Homo sapiens: one gene and its partner. The protein of the gene in region 1 interacts with the protein of each later gene in a pairwise test. Each region holds a gene or a part of one and is shown in the gene's direction. Other genes may lie near its edges. The genes, in order: BTAF1 and MVD.

Region 1 (8,419 bases):
TATGGTTATCATGTGGCTTACGTAAAACATCTTATAGTTATAGTCAACTGTTTTTAGCTGATAACATCTGTTACGTGCAAAAACTCTAGACTTTTCTCCTCTACATACTGTTTTTTTTTTCTTTCTTTCTTTTTTTTTTTAAGAGACAAGGTCTTGCTACATTGTCTAGACTGACCTTGAACTTCTAGGCTCAAGTGATCCTCCCACCACAGCCTCCTGAGTAGCTGAGTTTACAGGCATATGCCATGCCCAGCTACACAATTTGTGTTTTTGATGTCACAATTTACACCTTTTTATATTGTATATTATTTAACAACTTATTGTAGCTTTTGTTATTTTTTTGACCATTTTGACATTTGACCTTTATACTAGAGATATGTATGCTTTACATATCACCAGTACAGTACTGGAGTATTCTAGGTTTATCTATATATTTATCTCTACTAGTGAGTTTTATATTTTCATTTGTATTCATAATAATTATTATCATCATTTTGTTTATACTAGAACTCCATGGCTGTGCATGGTGGCTCATACCTATAATCTCAACACTTTGGGAGGCCAAGACAGGAGGATCACTGGAGTCCAGGAGTTTGAGACCAGCCTAAGCAAGATGGCAAGACTCCATCTCTATAGTAAATAAATACATAAATAAATATTAGCTGGGCACAGTGGTACATGCCTATAGTTCCATCTACTTGGGAGGAATTCAAAGTGGCAGTGAATCATGATTGTGCCACTGAATTCCAGCAACAAAGCAAGACCCTGTCAAAAAAAGAAAGAAAGAAAAGAAGGAAGGAAGGATGGAAGGAAGGAAGGAAGGAAGGAAGGGAAGGAAGAAAGGAAGAAAGCAAGAAAGCCTAGCACTTTGGGAGGCCGAGGCAGGTGGATCACCTGGAGTCAGGAGTTTGAGACCAGCCTGGGCAACATGGTGAAACCCCGTCTCTACTAAAAATGCAAAAATTAGCCAGGTGTGGTGGCAGTTGCCTGTAATCCCAGCTACTCGGGAGGCTGAGGCAGGAGAATTGCTTGAACCCAGGAGGCGGAGGTTGCAGTGAGCCAAGATTGTGCCATTGCACTCCAGCCTGGGGGACAAGAGCAAGACTTCGAAGGAAAAAAAAAAGGAAAGAAAGAAACTTCCATTAGGCATTTCTTGTAGGGCAGACCTAGTAGTGATGAGTTTCTTCAGCTTTTGCTTGTTTGGGAAAAACTTTATTTCTTCTTCATTTCTTCATTCCTTTCAGCACTTTGAATATATAATCTTATTCTTTCCTGGCCTATAAGGTTTCTCCTGAGAAATCTATTGGTAGTCTAATGGAGATTCCCGTATATGTGACTTGACACTTTTCTCTTGCTGCTTTTAAAATTCTTTATTTTTCTTTAAATTTTGACAGTTTGATTATTATGTGCCTTGGTGAGGATGTCTTTGGGCTGTATTTATTGGGGGATCTTTCAGTTTTATGAATCTGCCCCTCTATATCTGTCCCAAGACTTGAAAGGTTTTTTTAGCAATAATTTCACTAAATAAGCTTTTTCGTTATCACTTCTCCTTCCTTAACTCCTATAATGTGAATATTTGTTCACTTAATGGTGTACATTTAGTTATTATAAATAATAATAACTAAAATAGTTAATCATAATAGTTAATATTTATTTAATACTTAGTCTTTTCTTTTCATTGAAACAGGGTCTCCTTCTGTCACCCAGGCTAGAGTAGAGTAGCATGATCATGGCTTACTGTTGCCTCAAGTTCCTGGGCTCAAGGGATCCTCCCACCTTAGCCTCCTGAGTAGCCAAGATTATAGGCACATGCCACCAACAGCTGGCTTTTTTTTTTTTTTTTTTTTTGAGACGGAATCTTGCTCCATCACCCAGGCTGGAGTGCAGTGGCGTGATCTTGGCTCACTGCAAGCTCTGCCTCCCAGGTTCATGCCATTCTCCTGCCTCAGCCTCCCGCGTAGCTGGGACTACAGGTGCCCGCCACCATGCCCGGTTAATTTTTTGTATTTTTCATAGAGACTGGGTTTCACTGTGTTAGCCAGGATGGTCTCCATCTCCTGACCTCATGATCTGCCTGCCTTGGCCTCCCAAAGTGCTGGGATTACAGGCATGAGCCACCGCACCCAGCCTAATTAAAAAAAATTTTTTTTGTAGACATGAGGTCTCCCTATGTTGCCCAGGTTGGTCTCGAATTCCTGGGCTCAAGCGATCCTCCCACATCAGCCTCTCAACGTGCTGGGATGACAGGCATGAACTATCACACCTGGCTAATACTTAGTATTTTCTAAGTGTGTCATGTATGAACTCATTTCTTCCTTATGACAATTCTATAAGTACAGGTTCATGATCTATTATTTACAATTCTGAAATTGAAAATGGTCTGAAAACCACACTTTTAAAAACTCACCTATAGTCCCAGCTACTCATGAGGCTGAGATGGGAGGACTGCTTGAGCCCAGGAGTTCAAGACCAGCCTTGGAAACAGCAAAATGCCATCTCAAAATATATATATTTGGCAGCAAATCCTGGCCTGAACTGGCATATGCCTATCTATAGTCTTTTACTTATTCCTCTTAGTATGGTTAGTCATACATTTTGCTGCAGCTCTATAAATATATTTGATTATAGAGTACTGCCCTACAAGCTGTTGGGATGCTGCATAATACAAGGTATATTCATTGGATTTCTTTTCAAAACCTAAATAATTCTTAACTCAGAAAACCATCTGGCAGGGGTGATGAACTGGTATAGATAACGGTGGTGAACTGGTACTATTATTATCCCCGTTTCACAGCTGAATAAATTGAGACTAGAAATTGCCACTTACTCAAGTTTCCATTGTTAACAAAAACAGTAAGCAATGTAGTTAATAATATTTTTGAGGGCTTCTCGTGGCAGTCACTTGGTTAAATGTTTTATGTGCATTAATTTAATCATCACCGCAACCCTATGAGTACTATTATTATCCTCATTTCCCAGATGAAGCTTAGAGAGGTTCTAAAATTCCCCCTGGAGACACTGCGATTCAGTGTGGTGAGAAAGGATTTAAAAACAAGCCGGTCCAATATCAATATATTTGATTATTACACTATCCTTTACAAATCTACACCACCAGTCCTTTCCTCTCTTCTAATGCCATTTAGACTATATACCCAATTATCTGATAATAAAAAGATTTAAAAAATATAACTAAGATCATTTTACTCACTTGCTTAAAACTCTATGACTTTCTACTTCATATGGAGCAAAGTCCAAATTCCTTACGATGATCCCTTTCTACTTCTCCCATCTCATTTCCCAACAGAGCAGACTTCTCTTACGCCTTTGCACTACGTATACCCTCTTCCTGGAAGGCTCCCAGATTGTCACACATTTAGCTACCTCTTGTCATTTAGGGCTCAGCTTAAGCTAATCCTGTTTTTCCCTGATTTACCCAGTAAGAGTAGGTCTTTAATCATACCATTAATTCCATCATTCTCTTTACATAGCACATAAATATATTTTCAATGTTTATCTATTTTCTTTTTCCTTTCCTTTTAATGTAAATTCAACCAGAGTAGGCACCTTGTCTGTTCTGGTTTCTTCAGAAGTTCCAGTCTCTCATATGGTAGGTGCTTAATTTTGGCTAAATGATTGCTGTACACGATCAGTAAAAAGTATCTGCTTGTTATTGAATGGTGGGAGATAAACTGATGAGGCAAGTAGGTGACTAAAGTGAAAATGTAAAGATATCTTGAACATCAACTTGATTAGATTTTAATAGCATGAACACCGCCAAGCAGAGTTTCTGATACAGAGAGGTGACAAACATTTGTTGAATGACTGGACAATAAATATTATTACTAGCTTGAATCTTGAGGCAAATTACTTAACCTTTCTGAGCTTAGTTTCCTTGTCTACGAAGATTAAAACTAACTTTTCAAGGCTTCCCTACAAATTATATGGATAATGCATGTCATGTGCCCAGCACACAGCAGGTACTTGTTAGTTTCTTTCTCTTTACATACATATATACTACTTTATGGTTTACAAAGTTCTTGTAAGCTCTTCTAGATTCATGACCTCATTTTATTCCCACAATCTTCTGCAGTACTTCTCATTAGCCTCATTTTACAGATGAAAAACAGACTCAAGGATTGAGACATAGCCTCTTCAGGTAATGAGAAGCCAATGGACATGCTTTATAAGCATAGGAGCGACATGATAAAAAGCAGTGAGGTTTTTTGAAGATTAATCTGTTGGCCTATAAAATGGGCTGAACTGAAAATTGGAGAAATATTATTTTGACTACTAGCATAAAAATCAAGTTTAAGGGCCGGGCGCAGTGGCTCACACCTGTAATCCCAGCACTTTGGGAGGCCGAGGCGGGCAGATCACTTGAGGCCAGGAGCAGGAGACAAGCCTGGCCTACATGGCGAAACCCCGTCTCTACTAAAAAATACAAAAAATTGGCCCGGCGTGGGGCTCGTGTGCCTCCCAGCTACTCGGGAGGTTGAGGCACATTTAGAATCGCTTGAACCCGGTAAGCGCAGGTTGGCAGTGAGCCGAGATCGCGCCACTGCACTCCAGCCTGGGCGACAGAGCGAAACTCGGTCAAAAAAAAAAAATCAAGTGTAAGATGATAAGGGCCTGGCAGAAGTGTTTAAAAGCCTAATGAACTTAAAAATATTGAAAAGCCAGATAAGTCCCCCAAAGGAACAAAAATTTAAAAATGGTAGTTTTCAAATCTGGCTGGCTGAGAAAATGATGGTACAAACAACATAAACAATTGAGAAATCAAACTTGGCAAAATCGTTGGTCAGAAGACCTTCTCTCCAATACCTAGGCAGAACTTCTGGCAAATAATGACAAACATCTGAGCCATTTCTTCAGTGTCATAGCGACTTTTTGCTTTCACTCCTCCCACTGGCTTCACCACCTGGACAAGAGCATGTTAAGGTCCTTCTGATCTTGCTTCCTAGATGCAGTACGGTGGGAAGCAGAATCTGGGTAGTGTGGAATTAGAAACCAAGCTTTCGAAGTTCCAGGACTTGGACTAAATCGCCTTTTTCCTTCTCTGTCAAATAAGGGGACCCTTACTTCACCTCCTTCCCTAGTTTTAAGACTAGACACCCTCTCCACATCAGCACAAAGCGCTTTTATTTAGGCGCGTGCCGCCAAACCAAAGGCGCTCGCGCCGAGCTAAGCTCCTGTCGGTGAGCTTACGTCACTTCCGGCGCGCTGACGCTCAGTTGTGCGTGCCGACGCCCGCGTCAGCAAAGAGCGGAGCTGAGGGTACCCGGTTTGAAGTCGTGCGGGTCGGAGGACTGCCGCCTCCGCTACCGTCTTGGACCCCTGCTTACCGGCCGCCGCGGGGACGAGCTCGGGTAGGCGGCAGGGCAGATGCCCGAGGGCCTGCGCTGGAACGCCCCACGCCGCACCGGCCGCTCCCCTGTGCTCCGCGGCCTGGGCCTGCGCCGCTCAGCTCTCTGGAAACTAGCGCCTCAGCTGCGCGGCGCGTAGGTCGCGGGGAGCTCCGAACCGCCGGCGCCCGGCCATGGCGGTCTCCAGGTGGGTCTTGCTCCTGACGAGCAAACTGGAAGGCGATTCAGGGAAGGCATGGTCTCCTCTTAGAGCCCCCACTCCTAGAGAAGAGCGGTTCTCATTGTCACTGGGCTCTGGAGCTTTCTTCAGTAGACTTCGGAGTTCGCCCCGTGGTCGGCGGGGGTTTGGGCTCGGGTTACTCCTGGGTAAATCGGTTCAATAATGCCTTTTTCTTGTTAATAGACCCCTTGGCACGTTAGAGCTGTTTTTTCTCTTTCCTCACCATGTTTCTGTTCTCTGGTTTCTCTTCCCTCTTTCGATTCTAGGGGAGTCTCTTATCTTTCTCAGTATTCTAAGGCTGGTCCCTAACCTCCATTTCATGGGAAAACTTGGTAGTTACTGTCGATGGAGGGGAAACCTGAATTACTATTATCTAAGAGACCGTCTAATTATGTTACCAGTTTTAATTTACGTTTTTAGGGGTATGTTCTTTCCTGAGATGTTTTTTAAAATTAAGTATAATTTCTCCTTTTGTTTGGCAGTAAACATTCCAACGTCAGCGTTGTAACCTTAAGCCAATTATCGTATTAGCATCATTTTCCGTAACTAAGGCGTGGAAGATAAATCACAGATCTTATATTCTTTTGAAATATTGCCTGTCAACAGGAAAGCCCAGGAAAACTATAGAAAAACTAACGACATTTATTTGTATAGCTATAGGAGAAACATTACTTTTTCCTCCGGTATGATAGAATGGTTGGAAAGCTTTTGTAAGCGGAATTTGGTGACCCTCTGTACATGTAATTAAGGGATAGTTCCTCTGTGATAGTGATCGGATGGATTCACCAAGTTCCTTAGAGTTGATATGGTAACTTTTAATGAGAATTGGATTCTTTTACCATATAGACTGAAGGAATAAATGATGAAAACAAATAGTTTTCATTTTTTTATAATTAACTGAACACATTCTTTGAGCGTATTAAGTGCACAAGTTTTATCTGTTTTGCAAGGGAAAGGATAACCCATTCCTTACAGACTCCCTAGATGACTGATGAAATAGTGTGTGGGAGAAGCCCATGGGAGTTGGGTGAAGGGGGTTGCTAGGTACCGTAGTATGGGGCATCTGATTTTTATTTTATAATCTATTCAATGTGAGGAAATTTTTTTTTAAATAAAACTGCCTTGAGAGAATACAAGTGACATTTTACATTTTTGCAAATATAGAAAGGTGTATCTTCTAATTTGTTACCTCCCATATAAATGCATGAATATATACATTGTAAATGCATTGATATGTAAACTTAATATAACATTTATCAGGTAATAGTGTTTAAGGAGATGAGTACTTCTTTTCTTAGAGCAACCTGTGCATTTTCACAGGATTGGATGTAGCTTTATAAAGACAAAATGAAAGTGTTTAAAAAGAACCTAATTTTCGGGCAACGCTAATCTCTTTTTTTTTTTTTGAGAAGGAATCTGGCTCTGTAGCCCAGGCTGGAGTGCAGTGGCGAGATCTCGGCTCACTGCAAGCTCCGCATCCCGGGTTCAGGCCATCCTCCTGCCTCAGCCTCCCAAGTAGCTGGGACCACAGGCACCCGCCACCACACCTGGCTAGTTTTTTGTATTTTTAGTAGAGACGGGTTTCACCGTGTTAGCCAGGATGGTCTCGATCTCCTTACCTCGTGATCCGCCGGCCTTGGCCTCCCAAAGTGCTGGGATTACAGGCGTGAGCCACCGCGCCCAGCCAACACTAATCTCTTTACGGAATTTTAGGACAGTTAATATTTCTCAATGACTGAGTGGGTTTTGAAGGTACTGTCTTTTGTTCTGGATGTTGTGTTTCAAAGAGTAGCACTCTTTTTCTGTGGATTTTTTTCTCGTTCACTTTTTTAAAAGCCTGTCATGTTTTTATGGAAGAGCTATTTCTGTGCTTAGTTTCCTTGGGCTCAGTAGTAAGCCCAAGGAAAACATTTTGAGACACTTGTGTGTTTTGGGGATAGTGTCAATTCTTGACTTTTTCACCTGTGGATTTCTTTGAATGGCAAATTTTAGTTTCAAGCTGGCCTTCTCCATGCACGAAGCACAGTTCTGTGCTAACTAAACTTCCTTTCTCTCCTGTTGGTGCAGACTCATTTTAATACTATTTTACGTAAAATAGGTGGAAAATAGCCCAGGAGATAAAAATCATATGCTAAAATCAAATCTAAAATATTTTTTGCACTGTTTATTTCATATGCATAACTGAAGAGAAACTGTAATATTTTTAGGACATTTCCACCAGAATTTCCAACAGATGGGAAATAGTAAGTTAGTACCATTATTCCCTCAATTGTCTGGTCAAGAAATTTGAGAATGTTCTTTGACTTCCCTTTTCCTCCCACACCCCATGTCCAGCCAGTTACCAAATCCAATCCTGTATATTCTGCCTTTCTAATCTTTCTCCAGCTGATCATTTTTCTTTCTATACCAGTTACCACAATCCTAGAACATGCCACCATCTCTAGTCCAAGACACCTTTAGAGAGACGCTTCCCTTTTGTCACTGTAAAGCTACATCCAATCTTTTGAAAATACACACTCAACCCTAGGAAAGGAAGTACTCATCTCCTTGAACATTGTATCACCTGATAAGTCTCATAGTAAGTTTATGTATCAATGTATTTGGTATTTGGACATGTTTAGTACAAGACAGGAGCCTCTCTCCTTTTCCTGCCTTCCATGGCATCTCATTTCAATCTGTTCTTCGCTTCAGTCATATTATTTACTGATTTGAAGATTTGAACATGAACATGGTAATCTTTCTAATTAATACCTTTAGTTGTTTCCTATTGCCTTAGGATAAAGTCCACATTCTCAAACAAACATATCTTACCAAGTCCTTTGTGATCTGGTTCCTG
Region 2 (8,547 bases), on another chromosome or scaffold:
AGCAGAAAAGATAACTATTGGGTACTGGGCTTAGTACCTGAGTGATGAAATAATCTTTACAACAAACTCCCGTGACATGTGTTTATTTATGTAACAAACCTTCACATGTACCCCCAAACCTAAAATAAAAGTTAAAAAAAAGTATCAAATTGTTAACTCCTCTGGAATAAACATTTCCTTGTCTTTTTTTAATTTAAATTATTATTTTTAAAATGCCCATATTCCCTGAGTCCTCGCTTCTTTTTACCTCTCCAATCGCCTGGCTTCATGGTGTTTCACATTTGCTGACTGCTTCCAGAAAAACATTCCCACTGAAGGCCTCCCAATGCAAGGCAGATATAGAGCAAGCTAGACACATGCCTTCCTTTCCAGTTGCTTTCTGACTTTTTAAAGTCCCAGATGCCTGGGCTTGGGGAAAGGACAGGAAGCGCCAGGACGCAGGAAGCCCCGGGGATCAGCAGTAGGATGCTGTGCAGGCTGTGCTCGGGGCCCCTCTGCTGGCCTGTCCAGGCCAAACCCCCAGGGCTGCAGGCCTGGAACCAGGCAGGACATGCTCAGCCCTGGCTGGGCTTCCCCTCCTTGCCCCAACACCAGTCAGGGCCCACCCACGGGCTCCAGCTGTCTGGCTTCCCATTCATCTCCCAGACCCTCTCCCCTCATGAATCAGTGCCACACACAGCCTACCCATACCATACTCAGCAAAGCACCCATGCCTGTGGCTCAGGTGCGGTGGTGTGATCAGAGCTCACTGAAGCTTTGAACTCCTGGGCTCAAGCGATCATCCTGCTTTAGCCTCTCTAGTAGCTGGGAGTACAGGTGTGCACCACTACGGCCAGCTAATTTTGAAAAAATTTTTTTGTAGGCTGGATGCGGTGGCTCATGTCTGTAATCCCAGCACTTTGGGAGGCCTAGGCGGGTGGATCACGAGGTCAGGAGATCGAGACCATGACCATCCTGGCTAACATGGTGAAACCCCGTCTCTACTAAAAATACAAAAAAATTAGCTGGGTGTGGTGGTACACACCTGGAGTCCCAACTACTTGGGAGGCTGAGGCAGGAGAATCACTTGAGCCTGGGAGGCGGAGGTTGCAGTGAGCCTGGGAGGCGGACGTTGCAGTGAGCCTGGGAGGCGGAGGTTGCAGTGAGCCGAGATTGCACCACTGCACTCCAGCCTGGGCAATGGAACAAGACTGTGTCTTAAAAAAAAAAAAAAAAAAAATTTTTTTTTTGTGGATATGGTGGAGTCTCGCTATGTTGCCCAGACTGGTCTTGAACTCCAGGCCTCAAGCAGTCCTCCCAAATCCCAAAGTGCTGCTGGGCTTACAGGCATGGACCACCATGCTTGGCCTATTTTCGACACACATACAGGCTGAGGTTCAGGAGAGCTGGGCTACAGGCGTCAGGGTGGGGATCGATGTGTGACATCTTTCAGGGAGGTAGTTTATCCTAGTTCTCCACTCAATAAGGGAGTCTGCCCACAAGCACACTGTCGGCACCCATTGCTACATGGCTCAACTGTGAGTATAACTTAGATAATTGTAATAATGAAAATAAGGAATGCTGATGGAGGGATAGGATAAGAAGGTATGTGACTGGGAGATGGAAGAGAATTCCTTATTTCTATTGAGTCATAATCAATAGAGGTTATCTAAAACTTAAAAAAATAGGGCCAGGCACAGTGGCTCACGCCTGCAATCGCAGCACTTTGGGAGGCTGAGGCGGGCGGATCACAAGGTCAGGAGATCGAGACCATCCTGGCTAACACAGTGAAACCCCGTCTCTACTAAAAATAACAAAAAAAAGTAGCCGGTCGTGGTGGTGGGCGCCTGTAGTCCCAGCTACTTGGGAGGCTGAGGCAGGAGAATGGCGTGAACGTGGGAGGCGGAGGTTGCAGTGAGCCGAGATCACGCCACTGCACTCCAGCCTGGGTGACAGACCGAGACTCTGTCTCAAAAAAAAAAAAAAAAATAATAATAATAAAAACGCCAGGCATGGTGGCTCACGCCTGTAATCCCAGTGCTTTGGGAGGCCGAGGCAGGCGTATCACTTGAGGCAAGGAGTCTGAGACCAGCCTGGCCAAACATGGCGAAACCCCGTCTCTACTAAAAATACAAAAATTTGCCGGGCCTGCTGGTGCACGCTTGTAATCCCAGCTACTTGGGAGGCTGAGGCATGAGAATCACTTGAAACCAGGAGGCAGAAGTTGCAGTGAGCTATGATTGCCCCCCTGCACTCCAGCCTGGGTGACACAGCGAGACTCTGTCTAAAAAAAAAAAAAAGAGCAGCCTGGGCAACACAGTAAGACCTCCATCTCTACAAAATAAAAAATAAAAATTAGTCAGGAGTGGTGGCACTTATCACAGCTACTTGGGAGGCTGAAGTGGGAGGATCACCTGAGCCCAGGAGGTTGAGGCTGCTGTGAGCTGATGGTGCCATCGCACTCCAGCCTGGACAACAGAGTGAGACCCTGTCTCTAAACAAAAATAAATTGTTTTTTTTTCTACTGGACTTAAACAATCTGCCCTCCTTGGCCTCCCAAAGCACCAAGCCTGTGTCTTCTTTTTCATCACAGCCGTGGCAGAAGGAAGGAGGTGACTGGAAGCCCCACTCTCTCTGAGTAGCTGAGGGAATACACCCTGACTATAGGCCGAGACAGTCCACATCAGCTCTTCAATAGGATTTAGTGGCTTTGCATAAAATGGAAAAGCAGCTGTGATTGCAAGAGAAATTAAAAATAACCACCATCTGAAATGCAAATTGAAAACAGTGAGACAACACATGTCACTCTGGCAGGTGACCCACTGTGCTGGTGAAGGCATGCAGGCACTCTCAGACTTCCGCAGAGAGACCTGAGTAATCAATTGACTTCCACAAAGGGCGACTTGCCAACAGCTATCAAAAGTACTCAGGCACATCCCACTTGGCCCAGCAATTCCACTTCCAGGAATTTCTCCTGCAGAAATACATGTGCACAAACAACGTAGGAAAGCACTGTTTATAGTAACAACCCAACTAGGACAGACCAGGTATATTTAGACAACAAACAAGGAAGCTTTTTACTAAATTGGGATGATCTCTAAGAAGAAGGTACGTAGAAAAAGCAAGGTGGGAGAACACGCTATGTGCTTGTACTATGCACGTCAATGAAAAAATACACAAAGAATTGACAGGCCAGGTGGAGTGGCTCACACCTAATCCCAGTACTTTGGAAGACTGAGATGGGAGGGTTCCCTGAGGCCAGGACTTCAAATCAGCCTGGGCAACATAGCAAGACCCCCCCACATCTCTACAAAAAAATTAAGAAAAAAATTAGCCGGGCATGGTGGTGTGTACCTGTAGTCCCAACTACTGAGGAAACTGAGGTGGGAAGATCCCTTGAGCCAGGAGGTCGAGGCTGCATGGAGCTTTGATCGTACCACTGCCCTCCAGCCTGAGCAACAGAGTGAGAAAAAAAACAGACTTTTTTTCTATTTCTGGAAAAAAATAAAGAATTTATAAGTATGATGGTTCTGGTAATAGAAGTAGGTGGCTAGGCAGAGTGGACACTTCACACTGCATACTCCCCTATTTTCCGAAATCTGAGTTTTTTTTTTTTTTTTTTTTTTTTTTGAGATGGAGTCTTGCTCTGTCACCCTGGCTGGAGTACAGCAGCACCATCTCGGCTCACTGCAACTTCCGCCTCCTGAGTTCAAGCAATTGTCCTGCCTCAGCCTCCCCAGTAGCTGGGATTACAGGCGTGCACCACACGCCCACCTAATTATTGTATTTTTAGTAGAGACAGGGTTTCACCATGTTGGCCAGGCTGGTCTCAAACTCCTGACCTCGTGATCCGCCCACCTCGGCCTCCCAAAGTGCTGGGATTACAGGTGTGAGCCACCATGCCCAGCCAATCTGAGCTATTTAAAAACTAAAGGTAAAATTTTAAAAGGGGAAGGGGAAAATGGGAAGTCATTGTTTTAAGGGGACAGAGTTTCTGTTTGGGGTGAGAAAACTCTAGAAATAGTGGGGGCGTGGCACATGATTGGAATGAATGGCAGGGAACGGCACGCTTAAATGTTCCTGTACGTTTCACAGGAGAAGTCAATGCACACACAAGCGCCGCAACCCAGTCCAAGGCTTTGCTCCTACAGGGCCTTACAGGGGGTATTTGAGACGCCCACCTTAATGCAGGTTGGACCCAGCTCCGGGCTGCGGGGCTTCCCCGCCCCGGGGTCTTTCGTGTGAGCCCCGTGGCGGGGGATCCTGGCCCAGGACATGGCGCGGAGAAGGCTGTGGGCGGCGGGACAGGGTGCCTTCGGCTGCCGGGTTAAGAGTGGATCCCGGGATACATCCTCCAGCGCCTGCCCTCGGGCCTGTGTGCACCCCCATACCCAGCGGGGCCGTCCAAGAGCTTCAAGGAGGGCACAGCGCGACCCGCCCTCCCCTCAGCCCCGCACACCGTCCCACGGCCCCGCACAGCCTCCCTCCCACACAGCGCCCCACGGCACCCGCACAGCGCCCCACGGCCCCTTCATGGTCCCCGCACAGCGCCTCACAACCCGCACACAGCGCCTCACGGACCCTTTACGGCCCCCGCAGAGTCTCCCACACGGCGCCCCACACAGAGCCTCACGGACCCCGCACAGCGCCTCAAGGTCTCCGCACAGCCCCCAGCACAGCGCCTCACACAGCCCTTCGCACAGCCCCCCGCACAGCTCCTCACGGGCCCCACACAGCTGCCGCACAGCCCCGCACAAGCCCGCACAGCACCAGCAGACAGGTAGCCCCCACAGGCAACAGCGCCCACCTCGCCGCGCCCAGACCCCGGATCGCCGACGCGGACGCCAGGCGCCTGGGCACACGGCGCCTGCGCAGACAACACCACGCCCCAGGCCTGGCGAGCGCACCCTGCGGGTGGGGCGGACCTACGTCAGCAACCCATCGTCCGATCCCGTCCATTGGCTGAGAGGTAATGCGTGCGCCCGACTCGCCGCTGATTGGTCGGCGCGCGAGCAGCCGGGCTCGCACGGGCCAATCCTGTGGTAGCGCGTGAGGAGGCAGAGGCCTCTGGGGTGGGATCGCGGGCCGTAAGTGGCTGTGGAGCTGGGGTCACTGCGCGGTGGGACCATGGCCTCGGAGAAGCCGCTGGCGGCAGTCACTTGTACAGCGCCGGTCAACATCGCGGTCATCAAGTACTGTGAGTGCCGCGGGCCGGCCTGGGACGGGGATGGCCGGGAGCGAGGCCGGGTACGCGGGGGTCGCGCGCTGATTCGGCGGCGCGCTCCGTCCTGCCCTCCCAGGGCCTCGACAGACGGGGAAACTGAGGCTCAGGGAGGGGCGCGGCGGTGGTCGGGCGGGGCCGCGCGCTCCTTCGCGTGACAAGCTCGGCGCCACCCGTTCCCCCGCGACGGCTGCCGCCCCTGCAGGGTCGCCCGGCGCCTGCCCATTAGCGATTACCGAACTATCGAAATCATCAATCATCGATTCCCATGAATCGTAAGAATCCGCCGTGGTGGTGCGCGTTTGTGGCTCCAGCTACTCGGGAGGCTGAGGCGGGAGGATGGCCAGAGCCCGGGAGGTCGAGGCTGCAGTGAGCGGAAATCGCGCCACTGCTCCCCCAGCCCGAGACCCTGTGTCCCTCCCTCGCCCCGTTTCTCCCAGCGGTAACCTCCAAGGAGCGGTAATGGGGGGCCCGCAGGCCCACATCCGTGCCGGGGAGGCCGGTCCGCACCTGTGCGTTCACAGCCCCGCCCCTCCCCTCGCGCCGGGGTTACCTGGCCGCCACTGACCACTCATTTCTGTAACGTCATTTCAAAATGTTCTGAAACTGGAATCGCAGTTATGTGGCCCACCCAGTATCTTTTGAGTTTGGCTTATTTCATTCAGCATAGAATGTGGACGTGCCCCGGGATTGTATCAGTGCTTTGCCCCTCTGTTGCTGAGCCAGTCCGTGGAATCCATGGACCACCCTCTCTCTAGCCAAGGCCTCACCCCGCAAAGAGCATCTAACGTTTTCTTTCTTTCTTTCTTTTCTTTCCAGAAGCCGCCACCACGACTGGCTAATTTTTTTGTGTTTCCCTTACCAATAAAGCTGCCATAAAATGTTGTATACAGGTTTTTGTGTGAACATACATTTCCATTCTTCTGGGATAAATGCCCAGGAGTGCGGTTGCTGGGTCAGATGGTAGATATATATATATGCCTCTCTGTCTCTCTCTCTCTTTCTATGTATATATGTATGTTTGTGTGTGTGTATATATATATACACCTGTATAGATATATGTGTGTGTATATGTATACACCTATATAGATGTATGTGTGTGTATATATACATATATATATTATATATATACTTTTTTTTTTTAAAGAAACTGTCTAATTGTTTTTCAGAGTGGCTGGGCCATTTTGCATCCCTACGGTGATGCAGATTTTCCGCATCCTCACCAGCATTTGGTGGAGTTGCTGTTTTTCATTTTAGCCGCGTCCTGGTAGGGATGTGCTGGCAGGGTGCTGTGGTCCTCATTCGCGTTTCCCTGTTGGCCAGTGACGTGGAGCATCTTTCTTTGTGCTTATTTGCCATCTGTGGGTTTTCTTGGTGAAATCTCTCTTCATATTCTGTGTCCACGCTCGAACTGGATGGTTTGCTTTTTTACTATAAGTTTGGAGAGTTCATTACACATTCTAGGCTGGGCACGCTGGCTCAAGCCTGTAATCCCAGCACTTGGGGAGGCTGAGGTGGGCGGATCACCTGAGGTCAGGAGTTTGAGACCAGCTTGGCCAACATGGTGAAACCCCCGTCTCTACTGAAAAAAAATAAAATATGTATTCTAGATATTAGTCTCCTGTTGGACATGTGGTTTGCAGGTATTGTCTCCCAAACTAGCTAATCTTTTTGTCCTCTTAACAAAGAGCCAGTTTTTCATTTTAAAGAAGTTCAGTGTATCAATGTTGATGTCAAGTCTAAGACCTCTTTGCTTAGCCCTATGTCCTGAAGATTGTCTGCTTTCCTCCAAGTTGTACAGGATTGCCTTTTATATTTAAGTCTGTGATCCAAGGTTGTCCAGTTAGCCCAGAAAGGCTATCCTTCCTCTATTGAATTGCTTTTGCACTTTTGTAAAAAAAAAAATCAGCTGGGCATGTTTGTGTGGGTCTATTTCTGGATTTTCTCTTCTGCTATTTTTTTTTTTTTTTTTTTTTTTTTTGAGACAGAGTCTTGCTCTGTCACCCAGGCTGGAGTGCAGTGGCACAATCTTGGCTCACTGTAACCTCCGCCTCCTGGGTTCAAGCAATTCTCCTGCCTTAGTCTTCTGAGTATTTGGGACTACATGCACGTGCCACCACACTTGGCTAATTTTTGTATTTTTAGTAGAGATGGGGTTTCACCGTGTTAGCCAGGCTGGTCTGAAGCTCCTGACCTCGTGATCTGCCCACCTCAGCCTCCCAAAGTGCTGGGATTACAGGTGTGAGCCACCGCGTCTGGCCTTTTATTTTTATTTTTTATATTTATTTATTTTATATTTATATTTTTATATTTATTTGTATTACTTTTATATTTATTTTTTTGAGACAGACTGTCACTGCGACACCCAGGCTGGAGTGCAATGGCGTGATCTCGGCTCACTGCAACCTCCGCTTCCCGGGTTCAACCGATTCTCCTGCCTCAGCCTCTCGAGTAGCTGGGACTACAGGTGTGCGCCACCACACCTGGCTAATTTTTGTACTTTTAGTGGAGACGGGGTTTTGCCATATTGGCCAGGCTGGTCTTAAACTCCTGACCTCAAGTGATCTGCCTGCTTCGGCCTCCCAAAGTGCTGGGATCGTAGGTGTGAGCCACTGAGGCTCACCAACAGTGATATTTATGGAAACGTGTCCATTTTCTTGTAACGTTCAGAGACTCTGGTCTTCTTTAAACCTTACGTTTGAGCTGGTTTTTGATAGCGCGCTGGTGGAGGAGGGGGTGCTGGCTCAAGATAAGGAGGCAGAAGTCCAGGTTCCCCTCCCCACCAACGCTGTCCCATCCCCACCAGGCCCTCAGGAATTCCTGAGTGTCTGCTTGGCCTCTGACAAGAGCCGGCAGGTCAGGGGAGTCCAGTCTCCCGTGTGCTCTCCAATGACTCCTGGGGAGGTGAAAGTCCCCACTCCTTCAGGGAGGGAAAGGGGGCGGGGCACTGTTCCAGCCTGGAGTGTGGGAGGGATCTGTTTCTTTTTTTCTTTTCTTTTTTTTTTTTTTTGAGAAAGGGTCTCCCTCTGTTGCCAGGCTGGAGTAAGGCTGGAGTGCAGTGGTGCCATCTCGGCTCAGTGCAACCTCCGCCTCCCAGGTTCAAGCGATTTTCCCGCCTCAGCCTCCTGAGTAGCTGGGATAACAGGCGTGCGTCACTACAGCCTGGCTAATTTTTGTATTTTTAGTAGAGATGGGGTTTCACCATATTGGTCAGGTTGGTCTCAAACTCCCGACCTCAGGTGATCTGCCCACCTCGACCTCCCAAAGTGCTGGGATTACAGGCGTGAGCCACCGCGCCCGGCCAGGAGTCTGTTTCTGTGTTGCTAGGCTGCCCTTCCTGGTCCTGC

Evidence for each region.
Region 2: the proteins of BTAF1 (region 1) and MVD interact in a two-hybrid assay, tested with the Homo sapiens proteins (one study listed by BioGRID).

What each region holds. Positions count from the first base shown.
Region 1 is NC_000010.11:91,918,541-91,926,959, forward strand, and holds the start of BTAF1 (TATA-binding protein-associated factor 172), read left to right. Parts: upstream 1-5,229; 5' UTR 5,230-5,536; coding exon 5,537-5,550; intron 5,551-8,419. UniProt on the Homo sapiens protein: Regulates transcription in association with TATA binding protein (TBP). Removes TBP from the TATA box in an ATP-dependent manner.
Region 2 is NC_000016.10:88,659,640-88,668,186, reverse strand, and holds the start of MVD (diphosphomevalonate decarboxylase), read left to right. Parts: upstream 1-5,095; 5' UTR 5,096-5,106; coding exon 5,107-5,176; intron 5,177-5,405; exon of another isoform or gene 5,406-5,468; coding exon of another isoform or gene 5,469-5,475; intron 5,476-7,549; exon of another isoform or gene 7,550-7,667; intron 7,668-8,547. UniProt on the Homo sapiens protein: Catalyzes the ATP dependent decarboxylation of (R)-5-diphosphomevalonate to form isopentenyl diphosphate (IPP).